2 linked regions of the Homo sapiens genome follow. The protein of the gene in region 2 interacts with the protein of the main gene of each other region in a biochemical or structural test. Each region holds a gene or a part of one and is shown on either strand. Other genes may lie near its edges.

The links. Proteins that work in one complex are often made in the same cells at the same time.
Region 1: the proteins of SIPA1L2 (region 2) and SHKBP1 interact in a test that uses a peptide from one of them, tested with the Homo sapiens proteins (one large-scale study listed by IntAct).

What each region holds. Positions count from the first base shown.
Region 1 is NC_000019.10:40,579,873-40,583,372, reverse strand, and holds part of SHKBP1 (SH3KBP1-binding protein 1), read right to left. Parts: intron 3,050-3,500; coding exon 2,888-3,049; intron 2,808-2,887; coding exon 2,717-2,807; intron 2,628-2,716; coding exon 2,437-2,627; intron 1,023-2,436; coding exon 907-1,022; intron 1-906.
Region 2 is NC_000001.11:232,397,465-232,400,299, reverse strand, and holds the end of SIPA1L2 (signal-induced proliferation-associated 1-like protein 2), read left to right. Parts: intron 1-1,026; coding exon 1,027-1,173; 3' UTR 1,174-2,335; downstream 2,336-2,835.

The DNA.
Region 1 (3,500 bases), on a different chromosome or scaffold from region 2:
AGCCGGGAGCCCTTCCATTCCTTTCCTTCCGTGGTGACCCCTCACAGAGGATGGGCCCTCTCCTCCACCTCCAGAACCCACCCACTGCTCCCCAGCCCCGTCCACCCCAGGCCTGCCTTTGTCCCTGTCTTGTTCCCTCCCTTCCTCCCTTTGATGCATCTGTCTGTCTGACTCTTGGCCTCTCCTGGACTCTGTACTTTTTAAAGTTTTAATTTTTTAAATTTTTTGTAGAGACAGAGTCTTATTATGTTTCCCAGGCTGGCGTCAAACTCCTGGGCTCAAGCCATCCTCTTGCCTCGGCCTCCCAAAGTGCTGGGATTACGGGCGGGAGTCACTGCACCCGGCCTCCACTATGTACTTCTGACATGACTCTAATTCATCTCCATTTATCTCTCTGAGTTCCCCCATCTGCCACAGTGGTTCAGTCTGGTTTGACTCTGTCTACCCTTCTCTGTCACCTCTTTCTGATTTTCTATTTCTATTTGCCTGGTTTTCTGCCTCTCTGTCTCTTTCTCTGCCTCTGTCTGTCTTTCTCCCAAAGCCATCCTCCCACCTCAGCCTCCCAAAGTGCTGGGATTACAAGTGTGAGCCACCGAGCCAAGCCAGTTCTTGTCTTCTACAGCATCCCCCCTAACCTGCTCTCTCACCCAGTCCCAAGACAATCCTCCCTACTCCTTTTCAAACCCATTCATGCTTCATGTGGGCTCTGCAGCACCTCCTCCAGGAAGGCTTCCCTGGTGCTCCTTAGGCCTTTATCACAGACATCCCCAGGCTCTGGCCAGCTGCTGGTTCTCTGGCTTCCTCCAGGCTTAGGGGGTGGGGGTGGGGGCAGACGTGAACCCCTTCCTGGGTCTGTACAGTCTGGAAAACTGGGAAGGGGGCAGCCAGGCTGGCCAGAACTCTGACCTGCCAGTGCTTGGTGACGGCATTCCACACCCCGATGCGCCCTGTGTGGCTTGTAGCAATGAGCTGGTTCCCGACGAAGAACAAGGCCTCCACAGGCACCCCCAGATGAAAGACCCCTGCAGTGGGCAAAAAGGGCTCAGCTGGAACCCTGCCTCATGGAGGAGGAGAGGTGGGAGGAAGAACTCCAAGGACCAGAGGGTTCAGTGGGACCACAGAATCCTTGAAGGATAGAAGATTCCATCAGGGGCTGGGCACAGTGGCTCACACCTGTAATCCCAACACTTTGAGAGGCTCAGGTGGGCGGATCATTTGAGGCCAGGAGTTTGAGACCAGCCTGGCCAACATGATGAAACTCCATCTCTACTAAAAAATATAAAAATTAGCTGAGTGTGGTAGCACACAACTGTAGCCCCAGCTACTTGGGAGGTTGAGGAAGGAGAATTGCGTGACCCCAGGAGGCAGAGGTTGCAGTGAGCCGAGATCATACCACTGTACTCCAATCTGGGCAACAGAGAATGACTCCATTTCAAAAAAAAAAAAAGTGAAGATTCCAGCAGGAATTAGAGAAGATAAAATGGGCCAGAAGATTTCTGATGGGGTATGGGATTCTAAAACGGTCTGGAATTCTAACAGCACTGAGATTTGCAATAAGGCAAAAAAACCTCCACTGGTGGCAGGGGATTCTTACGAGGGCTGAGATTTATTTGGGGACAGATTAATAAGTCCGAGATTTGTTGCTGTGGCTTTGAGACAGGGTCTTGCTCTGTTGTCCAGGCTGGAGTGCAGTGGTGCAATCATGGCTTACATAGCTCACGGCAGCCTCGAACTCCTGGCCTCAAGCAATCCTCCTGCCATGGCCTCCCAAAGTGCTGGAACTACAGATGTGAGTTACTGTGCCCAGCCATAAGTCAGAGATTTCTTTTTTTGTTTTTTTTTTTTTTTTGAGATGGTGTCTCACTCTGTCCACTCTGTCGCTCAGGCTGGAATGCAGTGGTGCGATCTCAGCTCACTGCAACATCTGCCTCCCAGGTTCCAGTGATTCTCCTGCCTTAACCTCCTGAGTAGCTGGGATTACAGGCACGTGCCACCACACCCAGCTAATTTTTTTGTATTTTTGAAATAAAGACTGGGTTTCACCCTGTTGGCCAAGGGGGTCTCGAACTCCTGACCTCAAGTGATCTGCCCGCCTCAGCCTCCCAAAGTGCTGGGATTACAAGCATGAGCCACCGCACCGGGCCAAGTCAGACATTTCTCATGGCCACACAGAATAGCGCATTCTAACAAAACCAAGAGATCTAACAGGGCAGGGAATTCTGATGGAGGGAGAATTGTATGTGGGTGGATTTTTCTAGGAAGCCAGGGAATTCTAACAGGATACAGAATTCTGAAGGGCTGGAGCATTCTAATGACACAAACAGATCTAATAGAGCAGAGAATTCTTATGGGTTTGAGGATTTTATGGGGTGGGTCATTTTAACAGGCAGTAGAATTTAAAGGACAGAGGGTTCTGGAAAAGGCTTGGGGTCATACCTATCTCGGAGCCACCGCCTTCCGCCTGCAGAGCCCATAGCAGGATCTCGCTGCCGGTGGCTGCTGCCACCATCTTGTCATGTTCACCCAAAGCCCCACCATGCACCCGGGCTGTGAGCGCCAGTCGTTCGATGGGCCAGTCCAGGCGGGGGCTGGAAAACACCAGCTGCCAGCCAGAGGCTTCCTTCAACCTGTAGGATCGAGGGGACATCACCAACCCTCACCGCATGCCCTTCCCATCAACAGGGCTGGGACCTCCTGCCACTCCCTCCCCAAGCACCTGTAGCAGACTAGAAACTGGGTATAGGCCACAGCGATCCAATTATGGTGTCCACACACCAGGCGCACCATCCCCGGCTCCTCAGGTTGTCCTTGAGGGGAAGAGTAGGGATCAGAAGAGGGTCACAGGGACCCCACAGCTGCCCCAACCTTCCACGAGATAGAAACGTACCTGAGGGTGAGGGAGGGGTTTTCTCATCCAGCATTCGGCCCAGCAGCCCTGCATTGCCAAGGTTGGGGGGCATCGTGTTGCTCCGTCGGACAGGGGCTGGCCGTCCTCCTAGCTGCTGAGGCCCCACTAGGCTGTGCCGGTTCCGCCGCTTCACTGGGAACACTACAGTGAGAATAAGAGGTAGAGTAACAGTCATTGTAATCGTGGCTGTCACACAGCAAGCACTTAAAATATGACGGTGATTGATTTCCCCATGTGTGGGACATAGTCTCCGGGTGAAGATTTTAAGTGGTGCAGTGACACAGCATGAAATGACACTGAACCACATAGCAAGTTACTTCCCTTTCAGTTCCCTTGAGCCCAGCACAGAGGAAGACTGAGTTTAGTGCTGCTGTGATATTAATGAATCTGCAGTATTACCTAATTTTCCGTTTTTTTTTTTTTTTTTTTTTTTGAGTTGGAGTTTCGCTCGTTGCACAGGCTGGAGTGCAATGGCACAATCTTGGCTCACTGCAACCTCTGCCTCCTGGGTTCAAGTGATTCTCCTGCCTCAGCCTCCCAAGTAGCTGAGATTACAAGCACCCACCACGACACATGGCTAATCTTTTATATT
Region 2 (2,835 bases):
AGCTGTGGGACTCAGACTGTCTTGGGACTGAGAGTCGTGGTGAGGAATGTCCGGGGAGAGTCAGTATCCAGGGTGGGCTGCAGCTGCTTCTTAGAGTGAAGTGAGTCTATCCAGGGTGGGCTGCAGTTGCTCCTTACAGCAAAGTGAGTGGTCAGCTCTGATTCAGGCCTCCTCTGAGGACCAGTGTCTTTTGGGCCAGTGACCAGGCAGGTGGTATTGAGGAGGGCCTTGGAAGGGCTCAGGAAACGAGGAAGCCTTGAGGGCAGGACCAGATATGCCAAGGGTGGGGGCGTCCACTCACCTCACTCAATGCTCCTGCACAGTGCTGGGGGTGGCATGTGGTGGCTGTAGTGGTTGAGTTAGATCCCGTTACAGAAATACCGATTATTACAATCTGACAGTGACCCCTCTATTCATTTAGGGCAAGGCATCCCTTTCAGCAGGGGGGGAACTGAAACTGCTGCTATACATTTTTTTATTGCTACATGTTGGAAACTCCAGATGTGATTCTTCTGAAAGTCTTGATTATTTTTACACAGTTTTTAATAGCAGATTTTAAGGGTCATTATGGAAATATAGTATAGCAGGAAAGCTTGATGGAATGAAAGACCTAAGTACATATTTTATTATAAACATATGTAACAGCTCTGCTAATTCCAATTTTCTACTTAGAAAGTTTTGTGCATTTGTCAAAAGGGTATTACCTTTAACCTCCCTGTAGTCTCCCTTTTTTGGATAGAGGGTAATATAAACTATGATGAACACCCTTCCTATATAAAGGCTATCTTAGCACCCCATGGGAGCAGAGTGGGATGAAAGAACAGGGTGTGTGGAGTGTTCATTCCCATCCCTTTGTCATCAGCAGGAATCAGGATCAGAAAAGTCCCCTCACTAAAGAAAGTCACCCCTTCTCCCCTCAAAAAGTACATAAGTAAAAATAAGAATCAAAGATTCTCGTAGCCCAGCTTAGGAGGAATGAATGTATCGATCAGTCTCCATGACTCAGTTTATTTCTGCTCTGACCAGGAAAAACAAGACAAGGCCGTTCTCCAAGCAGAAGTGCAGCACCTGAGACAGGACAACATGAGACTGCAGGAGGAGTCCCAGACCGCGACAGCTCAGCTGCGGAAATTCACAGAATGGTTTTTCACCACCATCGACAAAAAATCTTAGCCAATCCGCACCTCATCAAGGGACCACTGGGAAATGCCCCTTGTCCCTTTGAAGTCACAAACATGTGGTTTTTCTGTGTGCTTTCAACCAATCGTAGATGTTTTTGCTGTTCCATTCTGTGTAGCACCATTCACCACAGCAGGATAGGGAGCCTCGACTCTTTCTCGGTAACCACGGCAGAGAGCAGCGCCGATGTGAAGATGAATGAATGTAACTCCTGGTGTGAAGATGAATGTAAACCCTGGCGACAGTTGAGACCTTTTTCTTTTAGACTCTGCTAAAACAGTGCTCTGGCTTGGGCTTACCTCAAGAGGGAAGATAGTTGAGTTTTATTTCCTGTATATCAGGTGACCTGGTAGAGATGTAAAGCAATTTACCATAGTTTGGGCTTTAGTATTGTAAAATAAACATGAGAACAAATAATCAGACATATACTTTAATGTTAAAGGTGCTCTATTTTTTTGGATGTACAGTAGTTTTATTTCCACAGCCACATTACCATAGCAATAAGAAAGGAGGCATAGTACATAGTTGGAAAAGCTTTGTGGGGGGATTAAAAAAAAAAAAAAGCACTGTTGTGTTTAACACTAGTTCAGATGCAGTTACCTTAGAGACTTATTTATTTGCAGGAACAAATGGTGCCTGAATATTAACAGTGTTCTGATTAAAAACAAAAAAAAGATACATATGCCTTGTAAATGGCTCACCGAGTGGTCAGTAGTCACTTCAACTCTTAGTTCACTTTTGTATAGTTGCTCTGCTGGAAAGAAATGAGAGTGAATCTGCTTACTCACTAGAACTTCCCTGTGTGCTGTGAGCCAGCGGAACCACTTGTACAATGCCAGATTTGTTTATCTTTGTACAGAAGCTTTGATGAAGTGTCTTGTATTTAACACCCTTATTTAAGCTTATTTAACCTTAAATTGTTAATTTTATAAAATTTGGTTTGGCCTGCACTACGATGAGGGATGGAGGTAGCTGCAGGCTCAGAAGAGACTGAGCTTGCACAGATCAGACCGAGAAGCAGGGTGAGAGATTCTAACGACTGGATGCTGCTAGTAACACATTGTTTGTATTGCTTTACCATTTTTAACTGTTAGATTTGAGATGAACATACATTTTGCTTTTTTAATAAATGTTTAAAAGAAGTCCACATAAGAAATGGTGTTGTCAGGTGACTAGATTTTTTGTGATCTAACATGTCAACAGTCTGACTGTATGTGAATTTATTTCAGGTCATTTAGAACCTTGATTTGTATTAAATACTGTTCAGCTCCTTTCTCATAGAATCCCAGATCGATTTCAGGAAGGAGTACCTAGCAGTTTTTAATAGCTGCTGTGTGGCGGACACTATTCTCTGAACTTTTCATCCATCTCATTTAACCCCAATGGTATCTATCCTTCATAGGTAGGAGGTGGGGTTCCCATTTACAACCACATGAACTGTGGGTCAAGTGAAGTAATTTACGCAAGACTGCCTTTAAAAAAATAAAATAAAATAACACTTTGGTGTTGCCAGCACTTTGAGAGGCCAAGGCGGGTGGATCACCTGAGGTTAGGAGTTCAAGACCAGCCTGACCAACATGGAGAAACCCTGTCTCTACTAAAAGTACAAAATTAGCCGGGCATGGTGGCACATGCCTGTAATCCCAGCTACTCGGG